Linked DNA regions of Homo sapiens: regions 2 and 3 are each linked to region 1. The links come from fine-mapping of genetic effects on gene expression. A gene starts in region 1. Each other region holds a variant in brackets. All regions are shown on one strand. Distances are from middle to middle.

What was found. PIP is the estimated chance that this variant, and not a neighbour inherited with it, causes the effect. A credible set is the group of variants that fine-mapping cannot tell apart.
Region 2: its variant is the best candidate, but not a certain one, in a credible set for the expression of ZNF268 in nasal epithelium (TOPMed, PIP 0.70).
Region 3: its variant is the best candidate, but not a certain one, in a credible set for the expression of ZNF268 in whole blood (INTERVAL, PIP 0.63).

What each region holds. Positions count from the first base shown.
Region 1 is chr12:133,176,287-133,186,740 of GRCh38, reverse strand. It overlaps ZNF268 (zinc finger protein 268), which reads right to left and starts at 5,246. Exons shown (of 6, transcript NM_003415.3): 1 at 5,055-5,246; 2 at 4,711-4,795. The coding sequence starts at 4,743. RefSeq lists enhancers at 4,859-5,058, 5,099-5,408, 5,004-5,528.
Region 2 is chr12:133,212,907-133,223,360 of GRCh38, reverse strand. ANHX (anomalous homeobox) reads left to right here. Exons shown (of 10, transcript NM_001372060.1): 8 at 2,009-2,156; 9 at 3,994-4,078; 10 at 4,390-5,049. The coding sequence ends at 4,476. It overlaps ZNF268 (zinc finger protein 268), which reads right to left. Exons shown (of 6, transcript NM_003415.3): 6 at 8,529-10,454. Among named protein-coding and RNA genes, the nearest start is that of ANHX, 18 kb to the left of the region's middle. The variant G/C (reference allele first, on the strand shown) is at 4,529.
Region 3 is chr12:133,006,514-133,016,967 of GRCh38, reverse strand. It overlaps ZNF26 (zinc finger protein 26), which reads right to left. Exons shown (of 4, transcript NM_019591.4): 2 at 9,800-9,926; 3 at 9,436-9,531; 4 at 1-6,832. The coding sequence ends at 5,487. Among named protein-coding and RNA genes, the nearest start is that of ZNF26, 25 kb to the right of the region's middle. The variant G/A (reference allele first, on the strand shown) is at 5,574.

The DNA of each region.
Region 1 (10,454 bases):
GTGAATAGTATTCCATCACGTTTCATCATTCACCATTAATGGACATTAAGATTATTCCCTGGAGGCTGGGCGCAGTGGCTCATGCCTGTAATCCCAGAACTTTGAGAGGTCGAGGCAGGTGAGTTGCCTGAACTCAGGAGTTCGAGACCAGCCTGGGCAACACAGTAAAACCCCGTCTCTACTAAAATACAAAAAAAAAATCAGCCAGGCGTGGCAGCGTACACCTGTAGCCCCAGCTACTTGGGAGGCTGAGGCAGGAGAATTGCTTGAACCTGGGAAGCAGAGGTTGCAGTGAGTGCCACTGTACTCCAGCCTGGGCAACAGAGTGAGACTCCATCTCCAAAAAAAAAAAAAAAGATTATTCCCTGGAGACCAACAGCTTATGTCTCAGAGCCTTCTCTGTGTACACTGGGCACAGTCTACCCGCTCCACATTTTACTCTACATTTCAGGGTCTAGGATCCTAGAATCTCTGCCTCAAGAAATCCTCAACCTACATCCAGAGACTAAATAAGGTACACAGGCCAGGAAAATGCATGTAGAGCCAGAATATCTGGGTTCAAGTCCTGGCTCTACATTGACCAGGGGTGCCACCTGGTCTCCAACTAGCCCTTTCTGGACCTCAGTACCCTTACCCATCAAAGGAGAAAAACAGTATTCACCACCTGGGGCTAGGGCTACTGTGAAGTTTTAAGGTGATAATACCTAATAAATGATTTAGCACAGAACCTCATACGTAGTAGACACTGAGCATTAACATTTGGTTGAAACGGCAAAAGAAAACAAAACAAAACATAAAACCAGGAATACTTAATGAAAATAAACCACACTACAAAATGACAATCAACAAGATAAAAAGCATATGCTGGTTCTTAGAAAAGAGGACTCCACCTTCAAACATCCCCCAACTCTGACCAGTGTCTCCATTTCTACCACACTACACAAAATCCCTGCTACCTCTTGTCTGAACGTGGTCACCTAGTCAGTCTCTGGCTTCCCCCTCTTTCTGTGCCTACTCTTGCCCACCTACAACCTGTCCCCCACTCAGCACTCAGAAGGGTCTTTGGAAACCCTAAGCAGCTCACGTTGCTCCCTGTCTTAGCGCCACACACTCTCCCGGGCCCCATGGCTTCCCAGCCTGATCTGGCCTCTGCACCTGTGTTCATCTGCTCTCCTCTCTCTCACTCCCTACCCCCAGTCACAAAGTCCTTCCTTCCAGGTTACCTGATCTGGCCTCTGCACCTCTGTTCATCTGCTCTCCTCTCTCTCACTCCCTGATCTGGCCTCTGCACCTGTGTTCATCTGCTCTCCTCTCTCTCACTCCCTACCCCAGTCACAAAGTCCTTCCTTCCAGGTTACCAAGGCATCAAACTTCTCTTGCCTCGCAGCCTTGGCCCTGGCTGTTCCCATCCTGGATGTTCTTCTACCTGCTCTTCCCAAGGCTGGCTTGCTATTGTAACTCAGACTTAGCTTAGACGTCACTTCCTCAGTGGGGGCCTTCCCTGAGCACCCAAGCTAAAGTAGCCACCACACATTCTTTGTTTTTTTTTTTTTTTTTGAGACAGAGTCTCACTCTGTCGCCAGATTGGAGTGCAGTGGCGTGATCTTGGCTCACTGCAACCTCCTACTCCTGGGGTTCAAGCGATTTTTCTGCCTCAGCCTCCCGTGTAGCTGGGATTACAGGTGCCCACCATCACGCCCAGCTAATTTTCATATTTTTAGTAGAGACGAGGTTTCGCCATGTTGGCCAGGCTGGTCTCGAACTCCTGACCTCAGATGATCTGCCCACCTTGGCCTCCCAAAGTGCTGGGACTACAGGCGTGACCCACCACACACAGCCCATCACCACTAAATTCCATTTAGGTTTTTATGACTGCTACGGTTTCAATGATTGCATCCCTCCAAAATTCATGTTGAAACTTAACCCCCATTGTGATGGTATTAAGAGGTGGGGCCAATTAGCTGGGCATGGTGGTGCGCACCTGTAATCCCAGCTACTCAGGAGGCTGAGGCAAGAGAACCACTTGAACTCGGGAAGCAGACGTTGTGGTGAGCAGAGATAGCCACTGCACTCCAGCCTGGAAGACAGAGCGAGACTCAGTCTCAAAAAAATAAACAAATAAATAAATAAATAAAGAGGTGCGGCCTTTTAATAGTGATTAAGTCATGACGGCTCTCCTTCAGGAATGGGATTAATACCCTCTTAAAGAGGTTTCAGAGAGCTGCCTGGCCCTTTCATCTCTTTGGCCATGTGAGGACACAGCATTCTTCCCTTTTTGCCCCCTTCCACCATGTAAGGATGTAGCAAGAAAGTGCCATCTTGAAAGCAGAGAGCAGAGCCGGGTGCGGTGGCTCACGCCTGTAATCCCAGCACTTTGGGAGGCTGAGACAGGTGGATCATGAGGTCAGGAGATCGAGGTCATTGTGGCCAACACAATGAAACCACGTCTCTACTAAAAATACAAAAAAAAAATTAGCTGGGCGTGGTGGCACACGCCTGTAGTCCTATTTGGGAGGCTGAGGCAGGGGAATCACTTGAACCCGGGAGGCAGAGGTTGCAGTGAGCCAAGATCGCGCCACCGCACTCCAGCCTGGGGACAGAGAGAGACTGTCTCCAAAAAAAAAAAGAAAACAAGAAAGCAGGCCTCATCAGATACCAAATTCACCAGCACCTTGATCTTCAACTTGTCAGCCTCCAGAATTGTGAGAAAGTAGTATCTGTTATAAGTTCCTCAGTCTGTGATATTTTGTTACAGTAGCACAAACAGACTAAGACAATGATCTAATATTACTTGATCTCCCTCATACATGTCACTTGACAAGCATTTTTGAGGTTTCCATTTCTTTAAGTGTGAATTACATGTCTCTATTTTGTCTTACTTTTCTTGGGTTCCATCTCAGTCTTCAACACCTCTTCCCCTGCTTTCTCTTGTCATTTCCCTGACCACTGTCCTCAGTTCTCTTCTTAGGGTACACATTCTCCCTGAGCTACTTTGGCCACACCTAATTTGCAACCTCTACCTAGAGGAGCCAATCCATACAAAACTGAAATCTTCCCCCTCTACCAATCACAATTCTGACAGTCTTCCCTTACTCAGCAAATGGTGACACTCCCAACCAGGCCCACAGAGTAGAACTCCAGTTGTCATCCCTGGCTTTTCTGCCTCTCTTAGCACTGCACCCAACTAGTTATGAAATCTAATTTCTTCTGCCTCTTTACCTCCTCTCCTTTTTTTTTTTTTGAGACAGAGTCTTGCTCTGTCACCCAGGCTGGAGTGCAGTGGCGCGATCTCGGCTGACTGCAACCTCTGCCTCCTGGGTTCAAGCGATTCTCCTGTCTCAGCCTCCCGAGTAACAGGGATTACAGGTGGGAGCCACTGCACCCAGCCACCTCCTCTCCTTTCTCAAAACCACTAATTTACTTAAACCCTTATATTCTCTTACCTGCTGCAGACTAGACTGTTCTACCCTCAAATCCGTTGTGAAAACACTTCAATAAGTAAACTCCTTCCCCTATACCAACAGTCCCCAACCAGGGACTCGTTTTGTGGAGGACAATTTTTCCATGGACGGGCAGTCGGGTGCGGCGATGGCTTCTGGATGAAACTGTTCCACTTCAGATCATCAGGCATTAGAGTCCCATAAGAAGTGCGCAACCTAGATCTTTCGCATGCGCAGTTCACAATAGGGTTTGTGCTATGAAAAGCTAATGCAGCCTCTGATAGGAGGCGGGGCTCCGGCAGTCATGCTCACTAAACCGCCACTCGCCTCCTGCCATGCACCCCAGTTCCTAACAGACCACAGACTGGTACCAGTCTGAAGCGTGGGGGTTGGGGACCACCTGCCCTATGTGATACAATCCAAGTTTTTAATGGGGTCCTCAAAGCCCTCTATGATCTTAGGCCTACGGCTCTAGCCTCATTTTTTAATATAACTCTACTATCACCATTAAACTCAACATTTTAGCAACCCTAAAGTGCCCAAAGTTCACCACATGAGGTCATTTCAAGCCTCTCAAATTTGCACGTTACTTCTTTTTCCTAGGCTGGTTTTAATCCTTTGTCTACTTTAGGTTTGTCATCTTTCAAACCTAAGGTTAAGAATCTCTTAATCATTGAAGCATTTGGGAGTAAGGGGTTAGGGGGTGTCCTTACTTCCAAAACTGACCCATTCCTGCATGTCTCCGTGTATTTCCACAGCCTGCTCCCAGAGCACTCATTAACTTGTCATTGTCTTTCTTATCCACCATTCCTAGACCACTGTTCTTCAAGACAGGGATGATAAGCAACCCATCTTTGCATTTTTAGCACCTGCCCCAGGGTCCAGCAAACAAAATACAATAAAAAAAAATGTTGAACAAGTGAATAAAAAAGTTTGTAATTTCCAAAATAAGGTTTAAAGATCCCAGATACAGAAGGCCCTCAGTAAATAAAGGCTGAAAAAACTGAAAGATGTGTGAGTATCCCTTGTTTAACTCCAAAGTTCAGCGTACAAAGTTGTTAGAAAAGAGATTGATGAAAGGAGGAAAAAAGGAAGTCGGATGACAAGAAGCATTTCTGGAAAGTCTAACATGCTATAAATGACGATCCAGTTGCCTAAAAGAGCGGTGGGGTGAGAAAGCTCCTGGCAAATTCAGACTGGAGTAGATGGAGTGCGCACACGTTGGCATTCAGGGAGAGCTTTTCAAGAATGAAAGAAAACCCCTACTCACCCAAATAGAAGCTGTCCGGACCCTGGTGGCCATCCCTACGGTCAGTTTTGTGTGCCTCGCTGGAAGTGACAGGACGCGAGGGATGCTAGAAGAGAGAGCACAGTGAAGAAAGAGGTCACCCAGCAGTCCCCAAACCCAGAGGGGGAGGGTCCGAGGCACCAGGGCTGCCTGCCATTCTCGGAGCTGAGGCTCCTTCCCTCCCACAGCACGGGATTCACCATCTCCACACCCTCACCAACACACAGGTTAGGGTCAGGCAACCGCCCCGGGTCAGCAGCAGGAGAGAGCTAAGGCAGATTAGTTCTGTCCCGTCCCGCCGCCTTGAAACCGGAGGAATTCCGCACCTCCGGCTCCTCCAAACCCTGAAGGGGCAGCAGAATAGAGTCCAGGGTACTGCCTCCACCTCCAGATCTGCAGCCAGAAGGGTTCGCAACCACTCCAGACTCGGCTGGCCCGTTGACCACGACGGGCGATGAACGCTATCTGAGGAACAAGGATCTCGCCATCGGCGCGGAACAATGGCGGCCGCTACGTATGTCGCACAGGAATTGCGTCATGGAGAGGCAAAGGCAAAAAAACTACAACTCCCAGAGGCCTCTGCGAGGAGTTACTCCCGCGCCGGAGGGCTCCGGCCAAGGGCCACCGGGAGGGGGCGTGCTAAGATGACCCGGAAGCTCAGGCCTTCCTGGCCAGGTCCCTGAGCTCCCGCGCTTGCAGGTTTTAAATTTTAAAGAGAATTAAAATACTTGACACCAATGGCTCAACGGTTGGAGGGATGTAAATTAGGTTACAAGTGTTCTAGTCCCTGCTTTACTGAAATGGTAAAAGTCTTATTTTGCTTTACACTTTAATAACAGATTCGTAAAATTCCCATTACATGTTAACATAAATAATATTTTAATGAAAATTACATATATTTTACAAAAGAAAAAATTTAGTAAGGAGTGGCTTCGCTTTTTAAGTCTTTTCTGACTTACTAGAAAGCTGGATTCTCATATCTGCTTCTATGTTTAATCTGTTGCGTATGTTGTTTTTGTTAAAGTATATAAAGATACAAGTCGAACAAGGGATAGTTTTGTTAGTGTACAATCTGAAACCACGTAGATGAACTTTTTCTACTCTATTACATAAAATCCGTTGGTCTACACTGCACTTTGAATGGATTCTTTTATCACGCATGATTTCGTAACATCATGTATTGGCCAGTTGGAAAATATTGGTTTACTTTAATGGCAAAAGCCGCAATTACTTACTTTTGCACCAACGGAAAATATCCACTAATCATTATTGATCTTAAGTATTGGGAAGAGGTGACATTCACAGAGGCAGATACAAGTTTTCTAGAATTCTTTTGTTTTTGGCTTTTAAAAACTTTTATAAATTTATGAGGTACAAGTGTAATTTTGTTACATGCATCAGTTGTGTAGTGGTGATGTCAAGGCTTTTAAGGTATCCACGCCCTATAGTACGTTATATGCATTGTACCAGTCAGGTAATTTATGATTATCCCTGAAACCCCCCCACACCTTTTGAGTCTTCATTGTCTATCATCCCACACTCTACATCCATGTGTACATATCCTTTAGCTCATACTTAAAGTGAAAACATGTGTTTTTCTTTCTGTGCCTGAGTTGTTTCACTGAAGATAGTGGCCACTAGTTCCATCCATGATGCTGCAAAAGACAATTTCATTCTTTCTTATGGCTGAATAGTATTCCATTGTGTATATATAACACATTTTCTTTATTCATCCATTCATGGACATTTAGGTTAATTCCATACCTGTGATATTGTGAATAGTGCTGTGATAAACATATGAGTGCAGGTATTTTTTTTATATATATAATGATTTCCTTTGGGTAGATACTCAGTAACAGGATTGCTTTATCAAATGGTAATTCTATTTTTAGTTCTTTGAGAATTCTCCACACTGTTTTCCATAGGTTATACTAATTTCACTTTCTCACCAACAGTGTATAGGAGTTTCCTTTTCTCCACATCCTCACCAACATCTTCTTTGTCTTTTTATTTTTATTATTTTATTTTATTTTTTGAGACGGAGTTTTGCTCTTGTTACCCAGGCTAGAGTGCAGTGGCCCGATCTCGGCTCACCGCAACCTCCGCCCAGGTTCAAGCAATTCTCCTGCCTCAGCCTCCTGAGTAGCTGGGATTACAGGCATGCACCACCACACCCGGCTAATTTTGTATTTTTAGTGGAGACAGGTTTCTCCATGTTGGTCAGGCTGGTCGCAAACTCCCGACCTTAGGTGATCCGGTCACCTCAGTTTACCAAAGTGCTGGGATTACAGGCATGAGCCACCGAGCTCGGCCTGTTTTTGTTTGTTTTGATTTTTTTTTCCTTTTGAGACGGAGTCTCGCTCTGTCGCCCAGGCTGGAGTGCAGTGGCGCGATCTGGGCTCACTGCAAGCTCCGCCTCCCGGGTTCACGCCATTCTCCTGCCTCAGCCTCCCAAGTAGCTGGGACTACAGGGGCCCGCCACCACGCCTGGCTACTTTTTTGTATTTTTTAGTAGAGACGGGGTTTCGCCGTGTTAGCCAGGATGGTCTTAATCTCCTGATCTCGTGATCTGCCCGCCTCGGCCTCCCAAAGTGCTGGGATTACAGGCGTGAGCCACCGCACCCGGCCCGGCCTGTCTTTTTAATAACAGCTACTGTGACTGATGTAAGATAATATCTCTTTTTTTTCCCCCACAACCTCGCTCTGTCGCCCAGGCTGGAGTGCAGTGGCTTGATCTCGGCTCACTGCAACCTCCGCCTCCTGGGTTCAAGCAATTCTCCCCGCCTCAGCCTCCCAAGTAGCTGGGATTACAGGTGCCCACCACCATGCCCGGCTAATTTTTGTATTTTTTATGAGAGACGTGGTTTCGCCATGTTAGCCAGACTGGTCTTGAACTCCTGATCTCAGGTGATCTGCTCACCTCGGCCTCCCAAACTGCTGGGATTACAGGCGTGAGCCACAGCGCCCGGCCTCATTGTGGTTTAAATTTGCATTTCTCTGATGTTTAGTGATGATGTTGAGCATATTTTCATATGCCTGTTGGCCATTTGTATGTCTTCTTTTGTAAAGTGTTATTTGTGTTCTTTGCCTGCTTCTTAATGGGATTATTTGGGTTTCGTTGTTGTTGTTGATCTGTTTGAGTTCCCTGTAAACTCTAGATATTAGTCCCCTCTTGTATGCAAAGCTTGCAAAAATTTTCTCCCATTCTGCAAGTGTCTCTTCACTCTGCTTACTGTTTATTTCACTATGAAGAAGATTTTTAGTTTAAGTCCCATTTCTCTCTTTTTCTGTTTGTTGCATGTGCTTTTGAGGTCTTAGTCATGAATTATTTACCCAGACCAATGTCCAGAGGGGTTTTCCGTAGGTTTTCTTCTAGTATGTTTATAGTTTCAGGTATTCCATTTAAGTCTTTAATACAGCTTGAGTTGATTTTTGTATATGGCGAGAGATAAGGGTCAAGTTTCATTCTTCTGCATATGGCAATCCAATTTTCCCAGCACCATTTATTGAAGAGGTTGTATTTTCCCCATGCTTGTTCTTGTTGACTTTGTCAAAGATCAGTTGGCTGTAGATATGTGGCTTTATTTCTGGGATCTCTATCTGTTCCATTGACCTATGTGTCTGTTTTTATACCAGTACTATGCTGTTTTGGTTATTATAGCCTTATAGTATAATTTGAAGTCAGGTGAAGTTATGCCTCCAGCTTTGTTCTTTTTGTTCAGGATTGCTTTGGCTGTTTGAGCTCTTTCTCGGTTGCATATGAATTTTAGGATTTTTTTTCTTTTTCTTTTTCTTTTCTCTTTTTTTTTTTTTTTTTTTTTTTTTACACAGAGTCTCACTCTGTCACCCAGGCTGGAGTGCAGGGTCATGATCTCGGCTCACTGCAACCTCTGCCTCCCAGGTTCAAGCAATTCTCCTGCCTCAGCCTCCAGAGTAGCTGGGATTACGCGTGTGCACCACCATGCCCGGCTAATTTTTGTATTTTTAGTAGAGATGGGTTTTCACCATGTTGGCCAGGGTGGTCTTGAACTCCTGACCTCATGATATGCCCATCTTGGCCTCCCATAGTGCTGGGATTACAGCTGTGAGCCACCGCACCCGGCCTAGGATTTTTTTTCTCTAAATCTGTGGAGAATGACGTTGATATTTTGATAGGGAGTGCATTGAATCTGTAGATGGCTTTGGATAGTATGATAATTGTAACATTATTAATTCCTCTGAACAGCATGGGATGTTTTTCCATTTGTTTATATCATCTACAATTTCTATCATCAGTATTTTGTAACTTTCCTTGTAGAGAGTTTTCACCTCTTTGGTTAAATGTATTCTGAGGTGAGCTTTTTGTAGCTATTAAAAGTAGAATTGCCTTCTTGATTTTGTTCTTAGCTAGATGTTGTTAGGGTACAGAAATGCTACTGATTTTTTGTTTTGATTTTGAATACTGAAGCTTTCCTGAATTCATTTATCAAATCTAATACTTTTTCAGTGGCATCTTTAGGTTTTTCTAGATATAAGATTATATCATTTGCAAACAGGGACAATTTGACTTCCTGTTTTCCAATTCAGATGCCTTTTATTTCTCTTGCCTGATTGCTCTGGCTAGAACTTGCAGTACTATGTTAAATAGCAGTAGTGTAAGTGGGCATTCTTGTCTTGTTCCAGTTCTTGGAATGTTTTCAACTTTTCTCTCATCAGTATGATGTTGGCTGTGAATTTGTCATATGTGGCCTTTACTATTTTTTAGTATGTTCCTTCTATGCCTAGTTTCTTGAGGATTTTTATCATGAAGGGATGCTGAATTTTATTAAATGTTTTCTCTGCATCTATTGAGATGATCGTGTGGGTTTTGTCCTTAATTAGGTTTATGCAGTGCATCACATTTGCTGATTTGTGTATGTTGAACCATCCCTGCATCCCTAGTATAACACTCACTTGATCATGTGTATTATCATTTTCATGTGCTGTTAAATTCAGCTTGCTAGTATATAGTTAAGGATTTTTGCATCTGTGTTCTTGAGGGATATTGGTCTATAGTTTTCTTTTTTTTGTTGTGTCCTTGGTTTAGGAATCAGGGTAACATAGGGCCTTGTAGAATGAGGTAGGAAGAATAATTCCCTCCTCCTCAATTTTTTGAAACAGCTTTAGGGGAATTGGTATTAGTTCTTTGTACATTTGGTAGAATTCGGCTGTGAATCGATTTCACCCTAGGCTTTTTTGGTGGGGGAGATATTTTATTATTGATTCAATCTTGCTCCTTATTATTGGTCTGTTCAGGGTTTTTCTTTGTTCATGTTTCAATCTTGGGAGGTTGTATTTTCCAGGAATTTATCCTTATAATCTAGGTTTTATAGTTTGTTAGTATATAATTGTTCATAATGGTCTCTAATGATCTTTTGTATTTTTGTGGTATCAGTTGTAATGTCTTCTTTTTCATTTCTGATTTTGTGTATTTGGATATTCTATCCTTTTCTTGGTTAGTCTACCTAGTAGTTGTCAGTTTTAGGGTTTTTTCCTTTCAAAGAACCAATTTTTGGTTTTATTGGTCCATTATATTGTATCCATTTTTGTCTCTATTTCATTTAGTTTTACTTTGACCTTTGTTATTTATTTTCTTCTGGTAACTCTGGGTTTGGTTTGTTCTTATTTTTCTAGTTCCTTGAGAAGTAATGTTAGGTTGTTAATTTGTAATCTTTCTGCTTTTTTGATATGGGCATTTAATGCTATCC
Region 2 (10,454 bases), 37 kb before region 1:
GCTCTCTCTTCAGAGCACAAATGTTATTTGGATGTTGGAACTCCGGGACCAGTCTCCCAAAGAACTTACCTTTTATCTTGTATTTTTTTATTGATGTGCGTTTTGGGTATTTCTTAAATTCTGTCTTCTGATTTTTTGCTTTAACAGTTATATATATATATATTTTTTTTTGAGGCGGAGTTTTGATCTTGTTGCCCAGGCTGGAGTGCAGTGGTGCGATCTCGGCTCACTGAAATGTCTGCCTCCCAGGTTCAAGCGATTCTCCTGCCTCAGCCTCCCAAGTAGCTGGGATTACAGGCATGTTTCACCATGCTGGCTAATTTTGTATTTTTAGTTGAGATTGGATTTCACCATGTTGGTCAGGCTGGTCTCGAACTCCTGATCTCAAGTAATCCACCTGCCTCGGCCTCCCAAAGTGCTGGGATTACAGGCATGAGCCACTGCGCCCGGCCAACTGCTGTATATCTTAAGAGAATTTCAATCCTTCTTTACTGATCTCTGAACTCTTCTTCCTTCATAGATTGTTACTTTCTATGGATGCAATATCTTACACTTCTCTAAGGTTCCTAATAATAATTTTTTTAAATGTGCTTCACTGTCTGAAGTCAGGACTGTTGGGACTGTGGATTCTGGCCCTTCCTTGATGCAGGGCCAGAAAGAAGAAGGGATCTTAGGGCTCGCGCCTCAGGAGAGGGCTTGTCAGTTTGATCATACTGACCTTCCATTTTTTGCTGTCCTTTTTATTTAACTGTTGGACACTCACATTTGCCTGTCTGTACTTACTGACGAGGCTGGCGTGGGGACGGTCAATGGGTGTCTTCACATTGGGACAAGAGGAGCTGGTCTTCAGACCTGGAGCCTGCTCAAGTGAGGGGGGATGTTCTGTGGGAATCAGCGAACTCCTTTGTTCTGTCTATTGAAACCCCTGCCTTCGGGTTCCCTGCTGCTGCCTGGGTACCCGGATGCTCTCCCTCCCGAGCTCCTTGGGAATCTCAGCCCCTGCCCCACACCCCAGCTCCCTGCCAGACACCCCATCACCATGGGCTGCACTTGCGTCCTGACTGCACGACTGTGGACATTGTGCTCATGGCTTTCCCTTTCTCTTGGAAAGAGAATGCGTAATCTATTGCTGTACTATGATGGATGGAACTAGAATGTCCAAACTAGTGCTTGAACATTATTTCCTCTCTCCAGAGTGTCTGTAAGGTCTGCATGAAAGAGGAAATAGCAGAAAGCAGGCACATGGTCAGGAAGGTCCCTTCAACCTAAGAAGGCCCTGGGCAGCTGGGCACCAGGTTAGGTGGTCACTCTGCTGTACAGGAAGGAGGACCACATGAGCCTCACCCCCAGGCCGCTTGTTCCATGTCTTGAGATCAGGGCCATCTTAATGCTTGTTTTACAGCCTAGTAGACTCAGGGCAGGAAAAAACCTGCCTTTTCAGGCCACAGCTCTCCTAAATGTCCACCCAGAATTGACCAAAACCACAGTAGCTTGTCTAAGAGTGAGAGATGTTCTGAGATACGCTCTGGAAAGTCAAAGGGAGGGGAAACTAGTGACAGCTTATACCTCAGTGACATCTTGGTAACCTTAGTAAGAGGTAAAAGTGGAAACCACCAAGGGCTGGTGGCCAAGCACTCCGTGAACCAGCCACAAGAGGAGACTGAGGGCTCCTGGCACATCCTTCCGCACCAGCAGGACGGAGCAAGCTGCAGACTCTGACTGGCACCGAGGGCACATGAGGTCTGCGATGACAGCAGCATTTAAAGTCAGCAGAAGCAACCGTGTCTTGGTCTCTGGAAGCCTGGAAGGCTGTTGAGATCAATGGTTGTGACAGTTCCTTCCTCAGAGAGGGAGACTGAGGCCCAGGGACCGTGAGTCTGGTTCACGTGGCGCGGGCTGGCTGGGCCGGAGGCTGCATCCGCCTCCGTGCTTTGAGGTCTTGGTTGTGTCACACGTGGGCTCTGCTCCTTTCTCCTGCCAGTGTGCCGTGGAATCTCATTACATGCAGGGTTTTCTGGCCCCCCCAGCGGCCATCCCCAGAGCGTGCAATTGGAGGAGGGTCTGGGCACAAGCAGTGGACGGACAGAGCTACGGGTGGGCAGCTTCCTGGTGACACAGCCCCCACTGCAAGCTCCTGAATTCATCCTCACCCAGAGGTAAGCCCTGAAGAGCCACAGGCCTGGACAGTCCTTTCCACAGGCCACAAGATAGGGTAATGCCCAGTTTATAGACTCACCGTCCCGGACTGTGCAGATAGGGTCCTCTCCTTTGGATTGCTGAAAACTGTAACAGTCCCCACAAGCCTACACCTATGAAGAAAAGGGTAGTTTTTCTCTCAGGAGAGCCCAAAACATCAGAGCAGATGTGGGCATCCCATGCATTGGACATGATCAGGGTTCACCCTTACCCCCAAATCACCCTGGACCCCAGCAGCCTTTCTTTTCCCTGAACAAACACTGTCAGTTTCTGGCAGAATCAAGATCCTGATTTTATATTCTGAATTGTAGTTTTCAAGGGACTTGGGGTCTTGAACAGCGTCCGTGAGCACTTGCTGTTGATAGTGTCAGTGCTGTAGAAACAGAAGATGACCAGGGCCTTCGGGGCCAGCCCAGCAGGTGGGATCCTGCAGAGACAGGAGGGATGGAGGACTGGGGCAGGGTGGCCTGGGGTCCTCTGGTGGGGAGGCTATCGCACCCGCCACTCCTGTTCTAGCAGACGCCCCATCCTCTCTACACTAGGGCCTCCAGGAGCAGAGCAGATCCCCAGGTTGTGGGGTCTCCCTCATCAGGGAGCTGCAACCAGGTTGACTCAAGGCTCATGCTAGTGAGGGCAGAATTACAGAGGGACATAGGAGAAAAGGCGGAGCAGCCCCTAAATCACATGGCCTGCTTGCTCAAACAGCCTGACTGTGAGAAAATGTACACCACACAGATGGACTCACTTTTCCATTCATGGCTGGGAGCTGAGACCAGGCAGAGGCTGCCATGGCCACGGTGTCCCCTTGTGTGTCTCGCCTCACCTCTCCACATGGCCATCTCGACCCCTTCTCTTGCTCCCCCAACTCCCATGCCTCCCTGTTCCGATCTGAAGGCCATGCTTCAACCTGAAAACATCAGTTCCTTCGTTAAAAGTGGCTTCATTGAGGTGTAATTGGCTGTACATGTGTAGACGGAGCACCTGAATTTTCTCAGTGTGACTTTCACATCCACACGAGGCCACCACCGTGATGAAGGTCTTCAATGTACCCTCCTCCTGCCTTTCGCCTCTCCCTGGCCACCCAGGACCATGGATCTGCTTCTGTCACTAAGGATTAGCTGCATTTTATAGAATTTCATGTAAATACGGTATATTTTCGGGTCTTTGTTTTGCTGTGGTCTGGCTTCCTTCGCTCTGCATGACGACTTTGAGAGTCACCATGTTTTGGATGCGTGAACAGTTCTTTCTCTCTCTGGGGAGCCACGTGCCATTGCGTGGATGTGCCACAGCTTCTTCACCCTTGTCCTGTGGATGGGGATTTGGGGGCATCACAGATAAAGCTGCTGTGAACATCCTGTATGTGTATAGTCTGCACACCTGCCTTCATTTCTCATGGTGCATGCCCAGGAGTGCCGTGGCCATGTCACATGCTAGTATGCGTTGACCTTGCTGAAGAACCACCGCCCCTTGTCCTGAGTGACTGTGCCGTGCATCCCGGCTCTTCCTCCTTTGAGGTCTCTGTTTCCTCCACATTTCTGTTCACTGGCTCTTCCATGACCCTGCTCTGAGCCCTCTGTGCAGTTGCCCCTATGACCCACCGGGTGACCCTGCTCTCTGTGTAACATGTTCCCCTCCTAACACCCTACATACGTGACAGCCCTGCAGGAAGAGAGTCTGTTCTGATGAGTGTCAAGTACTAGAATGTCTCCTGATGAGGGAGAAAGCACAGCTGGGTGGATTTTGTCACCCCAGTGTCCCCTTGAGATAGGGCCTATTCTTACACTGTCTCTTTTCCAGCCCTCCAGAGCTGGCCCCAGCCCCATCTGCCTTCCCCGGCCCTGTGTCTGCCATGGAGCTGAGCCAGGCCCTGCCCTCCAGCCAGGTGAGGCTTCCCTATGAGCACTGAAGGATTCCCTCTTTACTCCTGGATCTGCAGCTCATGGTGCTGAGGAGGGTTCAGCTAGTGCCACTGGAGTGAATACACCAGGCAAAGATAAACAAGGGGCAAAGATGATTTGTGGCTGGACATTACTGGACTGGGAGCTGGGGTGAGGGATGCTGTGGGGCAACATTCCCTCCTGAGTCCAGACTGGTTGCGGGGGGTCTTCCCAAGGTCAGGAGGTGCCCAGGTGGGAGGGCAGGTCTTGAGCCTGGAAAGGAAGCCTCTGTGTTTACCACTGTGTTGTCTTCCAGGTGCAGTGTTCTGATAGCCAGGCCTCTGGTGATGCCTTCTGGGGAGCCAGGATGCTCCTTGAGTTTTCAGGGAGCAGCCTGGGCTGAGCTATCCCCAGGAGCCAGACAGCACCCCAGGAGGAGCGGGTGTGGATGGTCT[G/C]CCTGGTCAACACAAGGAGTTACAGAGCTTTATCCTGAATACAAAATGAAGGTCCCCAGAGTTCCCCTGGGGGCTCTGCTGAAAAGCAGAGATTCTTTCCCACTGCCATGTTTGAATAGTTTGGTTAGCAATTCCCTGTAGTAGAGAAAGCATTTGAGAAATGTTCGTGAGATCAGAAGTCAAAGGTGGGTCTGTCCCACTCACGCAGCACTGGATCAGTCGGGCTCCGGGGCACTCGTGCAGAGAAGGCCATTCTAGAGAGGGGAGTGTTCTGCTGCTGGCTGCCTTGCCGTCTGCCCGTGCACACAGCCAGACTTTTCCACCAAGTTAACTGAGTGAGGTATGAGGAGTGTTCTGAGATTTCTGTGTGTAGGGGCTTCTCCCTTGAGTACTGGGAGGCAAACCTGTCTGCGAATGGCCTAGGCAGGGCAGAGTAGGGTGGATTTTCCCTCCAGGTTGTAATTCACTGTGTCTATGACACAAATGTTGTAGTCAATTAAAGTTTAATGTTTTGAACTCCCCCCTTGTATTCACTTAACCATGTATCCTGGGCATCTGTCCATGTCAAAGTACAGAGATGAACATCAGCCTTTCCACCCGGGGCCAGTGTTTCATGATGTGGGTGTACATTAATCATGCAGCAGTGCCCGACAGATGGACATCTGGACAGTTTCCAGTGTGTCTGTTTTATATGCAGCATTAGCGTGGGCAACCCTGCCCTCTGCCCTTTGCCCTTCACCTGGCTATTATTAGGATAAATTCCTGGAAGCTGAATTTCTGGGTCGATTATGGTAGCCCTAGGTGTGGACTGTGGATTTTGGAGTGTCTGTGACCTTGTGCTCACCTGGCCACGTGCCCATCTCAGGGGAGAGCCACATGTGGTCTGGGCTGAGATCAGTAGCCCTTAACCCAGAGAAGTCAGACTCTGGCCCTGCTCTCAGGAGCTCCCAAGCTGCTCTGTGAGAGGCAAAGGCACAAATACCAACCTTCCTGTGGGGTCATGGGTGGAACAGAAGGAGGAGCCATAGCTGGGAGATCTGACGGTGGGGGTCGGGAGAACAGGAGAATCTTGACGGAGGTTGCAGAAGAGCATTGTGATAGGGAGGGAATGGGGTAGTGTGGCAAAGAGAACAGGAGCCTTGGTGTCTGGCAACCATTGCATTGCTCACCTGTGGCCCCATGCATCCCTGGCAATCCCCAGGCCTGGAGGAGAAGCAGGAGGGCACTGGGACCAGCTTCCCAGCAACCCTGAGCTTGAAGGATGTGCTGCCAACAGGGTGGTGTGGAGTGGAGGGCACAGCTGCTTGCCTCCCTGTCGCAGGAGAACCAGCCCCCATGTTCCCCACATGCCGGCTCCCCCAGACTCAGGGCAGAAGCAGCAGCAGTGACTACTGTGCTTTGGGCTGCTATGGGAGGCACCACCCTTTGGCCCTCCCAGGAAACACGCAGAGCCTGGGCCCATCCCATCCCTGGGCTGAGGCCTTTCCTGCAACCAGCAGGGCCCAGAGACCCAGCAAAGAGGCACTGGGTGCTAGCTGGTCACAGTCAGAGGCCCAGGCTGCACAAGGATCTCCATGGCATGTTGTTCCCTCTTGTCCTCAGCAGGGCTCAGTCCTGAACATTCTAGAGTCCTGACTCAGACAGCTGTATCATGTCCATTCTAGAGAAAATGGACCAAAGTCTCTGGAGCTGGCCCTTGGCTAGGACTGGACCTCCCAAAAGGGGATCTCTACCAGTGGTTGATGGTCCTGCCAGGATGGAGGCTGGAGGCTCCTCACTTTCTCTGTTCAGCACCTATGAGGAGGAACTGCTGCCCACAGGCCCTTCCTTCCCCTGTCTCCTTTCTGGCTTTATCCCTGGCCTCTCTGACAATGGGATGTGGCCCCACAGCCTGTTCTGCCCTCATCCCATTAAAGGACCAGCCTGAGTCCAGTGGACACAGGTAAGGCACCATGACCAAGTGGTGTGACCCCTTTCTGTGCCTTCCTGAGGCACCTGTCTAGAGAATGAAGGGACATAATGGCTGTTCCAGTGGATTGATGGCTGGGAGGAGGGGCCAAGAGAGGTATGAGGGGTGGGGTTTGGCCAGCCCTGGGCTTTCTGGACTCCAGGGACAGCGAGGTGGGGGCTCAGGGCAGCTCCAGTGACAGCAAGGTAGAAGCTCAGGACAGCCCCAGGGACAGGGGTGGAGGCTCAGGTGCAGCCCCAGGGACAGCAAGGTAGAGCCTAAAACAGCACCAGGAGACTGAGAACTGAGACCAGGACTTCCAGACAGAGTGGAAATGACCACCCAATAGCAGTGGTGGCCCATGAAGAGCCCTACTTCCCTGACTCACCCTCTCGGGTGGGCTTGGGAGGCAGCTGTGGTCTGGAGAGAGTGGTGGATGGAGCATGCCTGTGTTCCTTTCCTAGGGCTGCTGTAACAAAGCACCACAAACTGAGAGGCTTAGAGCAACGATTTGTTGTCTCCGAGTTGGGAAATCCAGGAGACTGAGTCATGCTCTTTCTGAAGAGTGGAAAGGATTGCCCCCAGGCCTCTCCCCAGTTCTACTTGTTTCTTGGCTTGTGACATTGAAGCTTCAGTCTTCAGTAGCCTTCCTCCCTGTATGCATGTCTGTGTCCAAATTCCCCCTTTTTATAAGGACACAATCATAGTGGATTAAGGCTGGCTTTAATTACTTCATCTCACATTTATCATCTGCAAAGACCCTATTTCCATATAAGGCCGCATTCACAGCTACTGGGGGTCAGTACTTGAACATATGAATTTGGGGGATATAATTCAACCCCAGCAGTGTCTCTGTCTCTGCTGGTGATCACCATATCCCTGCTGGTGCCAAGTAATCATGGCCCCTCCCAGGGTGCCCCATCCTTGTACCTGGTGCTCCAGGCAGTTCACAGGAGGGCCTAACTGCTGGGTTTGGGGCTGGCATTGGGATCCCTTGCCCAGTAAGGGCTGGATCCAGACTGTTCTGGGGTTGAGGTGCTGGTGTTTTGAAGGCAGGAAAAACCAGAGGCTGGTCCTTCTCTGGACGGTGAACCACAGCAAGGGACCTCTCATGGGGGCTCCCATACCTCCTGTGACCTGGGCAGAAAGTCGTACAGTCCCAGGCCTCCAAAGGCAAAAGCCCCTTCTGACTCAGATAACATCCCTCCCACTCTGCTTGCCTGCAGAGCCCCGGAGGTTTCTGGGGAGCTTCAGTGGAGCTGAATCATCAGGGTTGAGGCAGGCCCTAGCATTGATCGTTAGCAACCAGAGAGTGGAAGCGGTGTAGATGGCAGCGAGTTGCAGGTGGCCTCAGTTCTAACTAAATATTACAATACTAGCATGATTCCACTTCCTGGAGCTGGCCTCTGGGGAGCCCCAGGCTGGTGTATTTATGATAGGGTCTGTGTGGCTCATGAGGCTTCACGTGGGACTTGGGCCATCTCATGACCAGACAAGTGCCCCCACAGCTGGGTTACCTCTGCTGTGTGGCCTGGACACAGGTTCATGTGACTCACAAACTTTGAGTGGCACCTGGAAACGAGGTTCTGGGCTGGAACCTGAGTGTGAACCTCACTTGGAGGCTGTGTGATTGCAGGTGAATCATTCAATCACCTGAGCCTGGCCCTCCCCTCTGCACAAGGAACTAGCCATACCTAGCAGATAGCTGTGAGTCACCTGAGCAAGATAGCTGCATGGTGATGGTCAGAAAACACTGATTTCTCCTTATTGAAATGGGACAACCCTTGGATACCACGTGCCGAGCTATGAATTCCAGCAATGCAAGTTTCAAAAGACCCTGTGTGCCCTAAGGAGGCACTGCTGATCACTTAGTGTCTGTGAAGGCATCAGAAGGTGACCTGGACCTGGAATGATGAAACAGCCATGGGTTTAGGAGCTGGCAGATGGTGTGGCTGGAGCACATGTCTGGAATGTGGTTGGCCAGGCCCAGGCAGCACTGGGCTATGGAGGGACTTAAATGTGAGGCTAAGAGGGCTGACCCTGGTGAGGGAATGCTGTGGACTAGATTTTTTTATTGAGGTAAAATTTACACAATATAAAATTAACTTTTAAAAATGTACATTTCTGTGACATTTAGTCCATGCACAACATTGTGCAGCCACCACCTCTTAGTTCCAAAATAGTTTCATCACCCCAAAGGAAATCCTCCATCCATTAAGCAGCTGTCACACATTTCATCCTCCCTCCGACCCTTGACAACCACCAATATGCTCTCTTTGGATTTACCCATTCTGGGTATTTCATATAAGTGGTATCATACAGTATGTGACCTTTTTGTGGCCAGCCTCTTTCTGCACATTGCTTTTATTTTTATCTTTGTAGACATGGAGTCTTGCTATGCTGCCCAGACTGGACTTGAACTCCCAGGCTCAAGCGACCCTCCCACCTCAGCCTCCCGAGTAGCTGGGATTACAGGTGTGTGGCCTTGTGCTGGGTTCTCAGCACAATGTTTCTGAGGTTCCTCCACGTTGTAGCAAGGGTCAGTCATAGCAGCTTTACCATTTTACAGCGGTGTTCACATTTCTCCACTTCTTTGTCAATACTTGTTTCTGGTTTGTTTTTAAAATAATAAGACATTCTGATGGGTATGGAGTGTTATCTCATTGTATTTTTGATTTATATTTCCATGATGGCTAGTGATGTTGAGTATCGTTTCATATGCTATTTGCATATCTTCTTTACAGAAAAGTCTCTTCAAGTCCTCTGCCCATTTTGATATTGGGTTGTCTTTTTGTTGTTGGGTTGTAAGAGTTCTTTATATGTTCTGGATACTAGACCCTTATCAGGTATATTATTTTACAGTGTCTTTTCTCCTATATTCACCTTTTTTTTTTTTGAGACGGAGTCTCGCTCTGTCGCCCAGGCTGGAGTGCAGTGGTGAGATCTGGGCTCACTGGTTCCAGGTTCACGCCATTCTCCTTCCTCAGCCTCCCAAGTAGCTGGGACTACAGGCTTCCACTACCAGCCTGGCTAATTTTTTGTATTTTTTTGTAGAGACAGGGTTTCACCACATTAGCCAGGATGGTTTCGATCTCCTGACCTCGTGATCCACCTGCCTCAGCCTCCCAAAGTGCTAGGATTACAGGCGTGAGCCACCACACCCGGCCTTTTTTTTTTTTTTGAGATGGAATTTTGCTTTCTTGCTCTGTCACCTGGGCTGGAGTGCAGTAGCATGATCTCGGCTCACTGCAACCTCCACCTCACAGCTTCAAGCGATCCTCCTGCCTCAGCTTCCTGAGTTGCTGGGATTACAGGCACATGCCACCACACCCGGCTTTTTTTTTTCTCTTTTTTTTTATTTTTAGTAGAGACGTGGTTTCACCAAGTTAACCAGGCTGGTCTCGCACTCCTGACCTCAAGTGATCCTCCCACCTTGGCCTCCCAAAGTGCTGGAATTACAGGCGTGAGCCACCACACCCAGCTCCTTTTCACTTTCTTGATAGTGTCCACTGATGCCGAAAGTTTTCAATTTTGGTGAAGTCCAATTTACCTATTTTTTCTTTTGTTTCCCATGCTTCTGGTGTCATATCCAATAAATCATTGCCAAATCCAGTGCCAAGAAGTACATGAAAAGATTTTCAACATCACTAGCCATTAGGTAAAGGAAAATCAAAACCACAATGAGATACCATTTCATACATGTTAGAGTGGCTATTATAAAAAATATGGAGGCCAAGTGCAGTGGTTCAAGCCTGTAATCCCAGCACTTTGGGAGGCCAAGGTAAGTGGATCACTTGAGGACAGGAGTTTGAGACTAGCCTGGCCTGGCCAACATGGTGAAACCCTGTCTCTACTAAAAATACAAAAAATAGCCATACATGGTGGCACATGCCTGTAATCCCAGCTACTCAGGAGGCCGAGGAAGGAGAATCACTTAAACCTAGGAGGCGGAGGTTGCAGTGAGCTGAAATGGTGCCA
Region 3 (10,454 bases), 170 kb after region 1:
TCTTTTACTGTCTTCTGATTTTTACTGTTGCTATTGAGAAGTCAACCTAAGCATGTAAAATTGGAAAAGGGCAACTCAATGATAAAATATCAGACTTTCAACTAATATTCCCATCCTTACAACCTCCAATGATGGTATCTCATAACATATTACAAATACCAAGAGAGTAGAATTTTTTTTTTTTTTTGAGTCAAGGTCTTGCTCTGTCACCCAGGCTGGAGTGCAGTGGTACAAATATGGCTTACTGCAGCTTCAACCTCCTGGGCTCAAGCAATCCTCCTGCCTCAGCCTCCAGAGTAGCTGGGACCACAGCCCTAAGCCACCATCCCGGGGTATTTTTTTTTTTTCAGAGATGGGGTTTTGCTTTGTTGTCCAGACTGGTCTCAAATTCCTGAGCTCAAGTGATCCTCCTGCCTCCCAAAGTGTTGGGATTATAGGCATAAGCCACTGCACCCAGCCAGAGTAGGGCTGATTTTAAATTTTAGACTTTGGCCCCAAAGTGAGCTGTTATTTTCCTTTTACTGTGATGCTCTTAAAATAGTTAAAAAAAAAAAAAAAAAGTAGCTAAATTGTTTTTAAAAATTAAGGATGCTCTGGCCGGGTACGATGGCTCATGCCTGTAATCCTAGCACTTTGGGAGGCCAAGGCGGGTGGATCACCTGAGGTCAGGAGTTTGAGACCATCCTGGCCAAAATGGTGAAACCCCATCTCTACTAAAAATACAAAAATTAGCCAGGTGTGGTGGCAGGTGCCTGTAATCCCAGCTACTCAGGAGGCTGAGGCAGGAGAATCACCTGAACCCCAGAGGCGGAAGTTGCAGTGAGCCGAGATCACGCCACTGCACTCCAGCATGGGTGACACAGTGAGACTCTGTCTCAAAAAAAAAAAAAAAAAAAAATTACCCCTACACTTTTTCACAATAAACCTTAGATCTTCAAGACACTCACAAAACCAAAAGCCACTTCCTTCTCTCAACACTTACCCCCAAGACAAATGAAGATATATGGAAATATATGGCATACCTAGTTCAGACTTCTATTAAAGAGTCACACAAACATTCCATCAATAAACATGCAGCATGAATTTCTAAATAAACGTCTGCTTGAAGCACTTTTATTTGCCAGTAGAAGTAATATTTCCAACTGTCTCAGGTCAAGAGTTCCTTTTGGCCTCCAGCCTGATCTCAGACTGGACTTTCCTCTTTGGGAACTCCTATGCCCTCTACTCAGAAGACTGTCCTCTTGGCTTCTTTTGGCTTTTCAGCAACATTGACATTTGTCTTCTGTATTATTATTATATAGTTTGTTTATTTATTTTTACTTTTTACAGATATGAGGTCTTGCCCTGTCATCCAGGCTGAAACACAATCATGGCTCACTGCATCCTCAACCTTCTGGGCTGAAGCGACACTCCTGCCTCAGCCTCCCAAGTAGCTGGGACCATAGGAAAGCATCTTATTTTTTTTCATTTTTTAGTTCTCTTTCTTATTCTTTTGCCACAAGTTGATAATTGAGGCCGATGCAAGTGAAGACATAGATACATGCCACAGTTAGGATTGTGTCATATACACAGAACATGTGTTTGTCATTTTCTTTTCTTTTTTTTTTTTTTTTTGAGACAGAGTCTCACTCTGTCACCCAGGCTGGAGTGCAATGGCGCAATCTCTGCTCACTGCCACCTCCACCTCCCGGGTTCCAGCGATTCTCCTGCCTCAGCCTCCCAAGTAGCTGGGATTACAGGCGCCCGCCACCATGCCCGACTAATTTTTGTATTTTTAGTTGAGACGGGATTTCACCATATTGGCCAGGCTGAACTCGAACTCCCGACCTTGTGATCCACCCACCTTGGCCTCCCAAAGTGCTGGGATTACAGGCGTGAGCCACCACGCCCGGCCAGTAGCTACTACTTTCAATAACACACTTTTATTGGGTCTTGGTGGAGGGAGAGGGCTGAGGGTCTTAGGAACACATAATGGATACAATCCAGCATGTCACAAAGCATTATCATTCTTTCTTCTAGATTATGGCAAAGTTCCTGACTTTTGTTCTTCCCCTTGCCATAAGCCAGTGTTGGATCTGGTCTTGCCTTAGCTGCTACAGCTAACTTTTAAAACCATCATCATGGTCAGGCATGGTGGCTCACGCCTGTAATCCCGGCACTTCGGGAGGCCGAGGCAGGTGGATTACCTGAGGTCAGGAATTCAAGACCAGCCTGGCCAACGTGGTGAAACCCCGTCTCTACTAAAAATACAAAAATTAGCCAGGCGCGGTGGCACACACCTGTAATCCCAGCTACTATGGAGGCTGAGGCAGGAGAATCGCTTGAACCCAGGAGGCGGAGGTTGCAGTGAGCCGAGATTGTGCAATTCACTCCAGCCTGGGTGACAGAACAAGACTCCGTCTCAAAAAAAAAAAAAAACAAAACAAAACAAAAAAAAAAACAGAAAGCAAAACCATCATCACTGCTGGGTGTCAGTGCACCAAGTATATGCTGTAAGTAATTGCCCTTCACTGAACACCCTCAAAGGATTTCACAAGTATCTACCCCCTCCCCCAACTTTTTTTTTGAGACAGGGTCTCACTGTTGCCCAGACTGGAGTACAGTGCAGCTCACTGCATCCTTGACCTCCTGGGCTCAAGTGATCCTCCTGCCTCAACCTCCTGAGTAGCTGGGATTGCAGGTGTGCACCGCTGTAACCAGCTTTTAAGAAACTTTTGTAGACAGGGTTTTGTCACGTTGCCCTGGGTGTTGTCATGCTGAGAAGTTTTGATACATTACTCATTCCTGCAATGCTCTATGAATTCTACATATTTTCCTAAATGAGCAATCCCATCCCAGGGCATGTTTAGTGTAGATTATTGTTACCAAACTGGTAAAAATAAGCCATGGGGAACTGGCAGAATAAGCTTCCTCCTGCAAGGCAAATTCCACATTTTCCCAGAAAAGGGAAGGGGTTCTATCTGTATCAGGAGGTGGCAGGTTTTTTATACCTCAACTACTCAACTGTGCCATGGCTGTGCAAAAGCAGTCAAATAATACACAAATATATTTAGCCATGTTCCAACAACAGTTATTTATGGACACTCAAGTTTGAATTTTATATATTGCCAACATCTACTCTATAGCCTTAAATGAAGCATCTGCAGTGCAAAGTCTATCAGAAGAGTTTGCTAGGCTGAGTCCTCAGGTTCTTCCCAGATACTCCTATTCAAAGTCTATCAGAAGAGTTTGCTAGGCTGAGTCCTCAGGTTCTTCCCAGACATTCCTATTCAAAGTCTATCAGAAGAGTTTGCTAGGCTGAGTCCTCAGGTTCTTCCCAGATACTCCTATTCAAAGTCTATCAGAAGAGTTTGCTAGGCTGAGTCCTCAGGTTCTTCCCAGACATTCCTATTCAAAGTCTATCAGAAGAGTTTGCTAGGCTGAGGCCTCAGGTTCTTCGCAGATACTGCTATTCAAAGTCTATCACAAGAGCTTGCTAGGCTGAGTCCTCAGGTTCTTCCCAGATATTCCTATTCAAATTATCAAGGGATAACTTTTTGAGGGGGGGAAGGGTGAGGATAACTTTTTCAACACATGTTTACATTAAGGGATTTAGTAAACATTTGAGGTGAACTGACTTTAATTCACCAAGCCAAATATACTATTTGATTCCCACCACCTCACTCCTACAGCTGTAAGAAACTTTTTCAGCAATGTCAAAGTTGCCAAGTCTGACACTCCACCCTGAGGTGAGATTTCAGGGCTTCAGGCCTGTCATTCTCATGGTCTAAGATCCAGCAAGATCAAAATCAGCCATCTCTGCCCCTGTCTCAGATTTTCTCATAAATTTAAAATTCTTATAATGCTATAATTCTTCAGTGTTTCCAAAATTTCAGTATCAGGCACTACAACGTTCCAGGTGTACAGAAACAATAACCATATTTCACATGATGGCTAAAAGTTGCTATCTTCAAATATAAACAAGAATGTGATTTTCTTGTCTCAGGAAAAACAAACAAACCTAAATCATATACCCCACTTTGTTAACTACATGCTACCAAGGCAACAACTGATCAGTTAAAGCCCTTAGGTTATAAGAAATAGAAAGCTGGCCGGGCTCGGTGGCTCACACCTGTAATCCCATGACTTTGGGAGGCTGAAGTGGGCAGATCACCTGAGGTCAGGAGTTCAAGACCAGCCTGGCCAACATGGTGAAACCCCGTCTATACTAAAAATACAAATATTAGCCAGGCATGTAATCCTAGCCACTTGGGAGGCTGAGGCAAGGAAATTGCTTGAACCCAGGAGGTGGAAGTTGCAGTGAGCTGAGATCATGCCATTGCATTCCAGCCTGGAGGACAAGAGTGAAACTTAGTCTCAAAAAAAAAAAAAAAAAAAAAAAAAAAAAAACCCAAACAACAAAAAGCAAAAGACATTTTTATTGAGAAGTGAGGAAACACACAGATCAGAGAAGCAGGTTCTAAAGGGATCGTATCCACAGTTATTCTTGTAATCAATTAGCCAGAATGAATGGATGTTCTCAACAGAATTCTGGGACAAGAATGAATGAGTTCCCACATTTTCTGGTTCATGTACAAATGAATTACAGACTCAAAATTCTGAAAAAGAGATTACCATTATCCAACAATGGGTAAAATGCTCACCTGTAGCTAGTGGAACGGATACCTGAAAGACACTACCACAGGAAGCACCCCAGAGAGGGGAGGTATTTCTCCAGAGAAAACAGGGGTGCTCATGTCAATCAATGGACAACAGGCATGGAACTGCAAAATATAATAAACGTTCATTATAATGAGTTCTCTTAAGCGGCAGCCCTGTAATAAATGCCAGATCTGCTTATGAAAAAGAAATCAAAAGATAATTAGCATTTAATATGGAAAATACTGGGGGATATTATTCCACAAACTATCAAATATATATATAGATAGATAGAACAAGTTACATTAAAAAATAAAGTACAAAAAATTTTAGAAATACTATTCAGTGTTAACTCAGGAAAGTCACATTAAATATCCATTAACTTTAAGACTCTGTTCCCTGCGTTTTTCCTGAACATTATTTACATATTTTTAAAAAAACAACTTTATACTCCACCATGAAGTCAACTGTTCATACCAAGATTTTATTTTACAAAAACACAGCTTCAAATCTGGAATGTGACTTTCCATGGAACACACTTTCAATGGGAAAATGCTTCCTTAATTTATTCAACTTATAAGGTGTTCCTAGTGTAAATTCTCTGAATCTTCATGATGATACTACAACATTTGATACATTTATTGCTCCACATTCCTTCCATTATTTTCATCTACAAAGATTTGTAACTTATTTCTGAAAGCTTTTACACTCATCCCAAATATGGTTGGTCTCTCTCCTCTCTGATTTTTGACATGAGTGTAATTTTAGGGCCTCCTGCTTGTAAATCCTGTCTATATTATCCGAAGTCTCCTGAACATCAGTTTCTCACATTGCATCATTCTGATTTCTCATTTATGAGTCTTCCGATGTATACGAAGCCCTGAATTCCAACAGAAGGATTTCCCACATTCAGAGCATTTCCATGGTTTCTCTCC[G/A]GTGTGAACTCTCTGATGTTCACTGAGAGATGACTTCTGAGTGAAGGCTTTTCCACATTCACTGCATTTAAAAGGTTTCTCTCCCGAATGAGTTTTCTGGTGTATCTGAAGTGATGCCTTCCTAGGGTAGGCTTTTTCACATTCATTGCATTCATAGGGCTTCTCAGTTGAATGAGTTCTCTGATGTATAATCAGCTGTGATTTTCCACAAAAGGCTCTCTCACACAAACTACATTCATAGGGTCTCTCTCCGGTGTGTGTTCTCCTATGTATAACAAGGTATGACTTGCTGCTGAAAGCCTTCCCACATTCACTGCATCCATAGGGCTTCTCTCCTGCATGAGCTCTCAGATGTGCAGTGAGCTGTTCCTTCCTACCAAAGGCTTTCCCACATTCACCGCATTGATAAGGATTATTTCCTGTGTGAACTCCCTGATGTACAATGAGTTGTGTCTTCATATTGAAGGCTTTCCCACAATCACTGCATTGATAGGGTTTTTCTCCTGTATGCATTCGGATGTGAACAAGGAGATAGGACTTACTCCTAAAGGCTTTCCCACATTCACTGCATTTATGGGGTTTCACTCCTGTATGAGTTCTCTGGTGTACAACGAATGGAGACTTCAAACTAAAGGCTTTCCCACATTCGCTGCATTCATACGGTTTCACTCCTGTGTGACTTCTCTGGTGTAAAAGAAGCTGTGATTTCCAACTGTAGGCTTTCCCACATTCACTGCAGCCATAGGGTTTCCCTCCTGTGTGAATTTCCTGATGGACAATGAGCTGTGACCTGAAAGAGAAGACCTTCTCGCACTCACTACATGAGTAGGGTTTTTCTCCTGTATGAACTCTCTGATGAGCATTAAGGTTTGACTTGGCACTGAAGGCTCTTTCACATTTACTGCATTCATAAGGTCTCTCTCCTGTATGAATTCTGAGATGTACAATGAGCTGTGACTTACAACGAAAAGCTTTCCCACATTCACTACACACACAGTTTTTTTCTATGCTATGAGCTCTTTGATGCTTAAGAAAATATGGTTCTTCATAACCATGAAACTTATCAGGATTCTTTCTTAAATAACTTCTGCTTGGAGCTGAGTTTTGTGTCAAACTTTTTCCACGTGTGTTATAGAGTCTCTGTCTTGAAGAATCATGGGTTTTGCTCAGATTAAGTCTTCCCAACACACTACAAGCATAGCTTCTTTCAATACTCTCAAGCTCATCTTGATTGTTCTGGTACCATTCTTCCCAGCCATCTACAAAAAAACAAACAAAATATAACTTTTTGAATCATAACATAAACCTGATATGGAATTAAACAGTATTAGGACTGTGATGTAATCAACCTTTCTCTTTTGGTAACAAGCCTACCACACTGGTTCAAAAGAAATACTGGCCAAGCATGGGGGCAAGGGAACTGAATCAAAACAAACCAAAACAGGTCCCGTCGTGAAAACTGGTAGCAAATTACCAGTAATCAAAAATACTTTTTAAAATAGAGGTTTAAAATTGGCACTTGGATTAGCCAGGCATGGTGGCGGGCACCTGTAATCCCAGCTACTAGGGAAGCTGAGGCAGAAGAATCGCTTGAACCTGGGAGGCGGAGGTTGCAGTGAGCCGAGATCACGCCACTACACCAAGTACAAAGTTCCTGAGGAAGAAGCCTGACTGACAGGGTTTAAGAAATAGAAAAAGGCCAGGAAAGCTAAAACCCACTGAGTGAATGGAATGAAAGCAGAACCAAATTATTCAAATCCATGGCAAAAAGTTGTTCATATTTTTAAGATTTTTTTTTTTTTTGAGACAGGGTCTTGCTCTTTCACTCAGGCTGGAGTGCAGTGGCGCAATCTTGGCTTACTGCAGCCTCGACCTCCTGGGTTCAAGTAATCCTCCCATGTCAGATTCCTGAGTAGCTGGGACTACAGGCACATGCCATCATGCCCAGCTAATTTTTGTATTTTTAGTAGAGATGGGGTTTCACTTGTTGGCCAGGCTGGTCTCAAACTCCTGAGCTCAAGCGATCCGCCCGCCTTGGCCTCCCACAGTACTGGGATTACAGGTGTGAGCCACTGTGCCCAGCCTAAAGGTTTTAATTACAGAAAATCTCAATCTTCTGCATTTAAAAGATCAGTTTGACTGTTCTGTAAAAAGTAAGAAAAGGACAGAGAAATACTTTAGGAAGCTATTGTAGCAGTCCAGAATGAGATAATAATTTGAACTACAGTTCTTGATATACTTTGGGTATCTGTCCCCACCCAAGTCTCATGTTGAATTAGAATCTCTAGTGCTGGAGGTGGGGCCTGGTGGGAGGTGCCTGCATCTGGATTATGGGGGCAGATCCCTCATGGCTTGGTGCAGTCTTCACGATAGTGAGTTCTTGTGAGATCTGGTCATTTGATAGTATGTGGCACATTCCCCGCCCCGCCTTACTCCTGCTTTCACCATGTGATGTGCTTGCTCCCCCTTTGCCTTCCACTATGACCGGAGCTACCTGAGACCTCCCTAGAAGCAAAGGCTGCCATGCTTCCCATACAGCCTGCAGAACTCTGAGCCAATTAAACCTCTTTTCTTATAAATTTAGTCTCAGGTGTTTTTCTTTTTTTTTTTTTTTTTTTTGAGATGGAGTCTCGCTCTGTTGCCCAGGCTGGAGTGCAGTGGCACGATCTCGGCTCACTGCAAGCTCCGCCTCCTGGGTTCACACCATTCTCCTGCCTCAGCCTCCTGAGTAGCTGGGACTACAGGCGCCCGCCACCACACCCCGCTAATTTTTTGTATTTTTAGTAGAGACGGGGTTTCACCATGTTAGTCAGGATGGTCTCCATCTCCTGGCCTTGTGATCCACCCGCCTCGGCCTCCCAAAGTGCTGGGATTACAGGCATGAGCCACCGTGCCCAGCCAGTCTCAGGTATTTCTTTATAGCAATGAAAGAATGGCCTAACACATGTCTGGAGTTGAGGAAATTTGGAACATACGGGAGAGAGAACTAAGATGGTTTGCTAAGGGACTAGATGTGGGAGCAGAGAAGGGGAGGAGTCAACAGCTTGAACGGCAAGATGGCACTGCTCCTTAGAGATGGAAACACTAAGAAAGAAACTTGTGAAAGAAAATGAAGGACTCTGGCCATTTCTTTTGAGGAAGAACGGTAATTTTAGAAGGAAATCCCCATTTCTGATACTGAGAGTAAAGTCTGGGAAAGCGTGGGGTAGCGCTCCCACAGGCAGGTAAAACCCAGGACTCAAGTGCCAAAGAGAAAGACGTCAATTTTGATGTTACAACACTGGGGGGAAAGCGTAAACCTTCGGAACGGAAGAGCCTTTCGACAGTTACAACATTCGGAGAGGAGAGCCAAACTGGGAAAAAATACCCCTCTGGACAACGCAAAAGGGAAGTATAAGGTGTGTAAAGTCACTCAAAGATATAGGAGACACCAGGGCCAAGACTGTGAGTCAAGTCTAGGGGATTTAACTGTGGAAGGCAAAGGAGGAAATAAAAGAAATGGAAATAGAGGGCAATGAGCCACATCAAGTGAGGGGAAAAAGAAATCCTCTAAAGGTCTCGATGCCCAATAAAACCCATGACCATGGGGAGGACGGAAACTTACCCAAAAGCAAACCTGAAGCAGAGTTCAGGAAAGAGGGGCATGCCTGCCTCTCAACAGTAAGGGGGAAGAAAAACCCAAATATATGAAGAGTGACGGCGATGTCCTTATCTGAGGAGCTCCTGGCTTCATCCTGAGTCAGCTCCAATAGCTCAAGGACTTCCAGAAGCATTTCTGAAGACAACACTGTGAGTGCCCACTCCTCAGGTACTCATCAGCTCACTCCCATGCCTCCCACCTTCCTCTTTCTCACTCACCCACCTGGACAGCTCTGCCTGGAAATTTTGGCATTTATTATCCATGGATCTTCTCCTTGTTCCAACTTGAAGATTAAGTCAGGCTTGGTACCATGATACCCTGTTGATGGGAAATCACAAAGGGTGGGGACCAGGCTGTTAGGGACAGGACCGAGGAATCAAGAGCTACAGAGCAAAACTGCTCATCTCACTTGGGGAAAGATTACAATTAGGAAGTGTGGGACAAACAGGGACTAAGGAAATTTGACCCCTAAAGTTCAAGTTCATAATCATTAAGCACTTCAGAGATCCCGGAGTAGTTCAACAACAAAAAAAGGGATGGCAATTTAATATTCACTATCTGAGTAACATTGAGACGCAGTACTTACCCACTGATATCAGGTTATGATAGTTTTCCAATATCACATCTCTGTACAGGTACTTCTGTGTAGAATCCAGTAGCTGCCATTCATCCCAGGTGAACTCCATAGATATATCCTTGAATGACAATAATCCCTGAAATAACACACACCCTGTTCAATTGGATGCAATTACATTAGGTGACATGGAAAAGATGCAGAGGAACTGGGAAGGGATAAATGTTCCTCTACCAACTATTTCCTGTGGCTGGTTCAGCATTTACTTTGTGAGAGAATTAAAAATCAATCAAGGAGTGCCAGGCACGGTGGCTCACGCCAGCACTTTCGGAGGCCAAGGCGGGTGGATCACAAGGGCAGGAGTTCAAGACCAGCCTGACCAAGATGGTGAAACCCTGTCTCTACTAAAAATACAAAAATTAGCTGGGCGCAGTGGCAGGCACTTGTAATCCTAGCTACTCAGGTGGCTGAGGCAGGAGAATCACTTGAACCCAGGCAGCAGAGGTTGCAGCAAGCCAAAATCGTGCCACTGCACTCCAGCCTCGGCGACAGAGTGAGACTCCATCTAAAAAAAAAAAAAAGAAAGAAAGAAAAAATCAATCAAGGAGCTTCTATTTGCCGGTACTCTCTTGGGTCCTGAAGATTTCAGGATGAATAAAATCCAGTT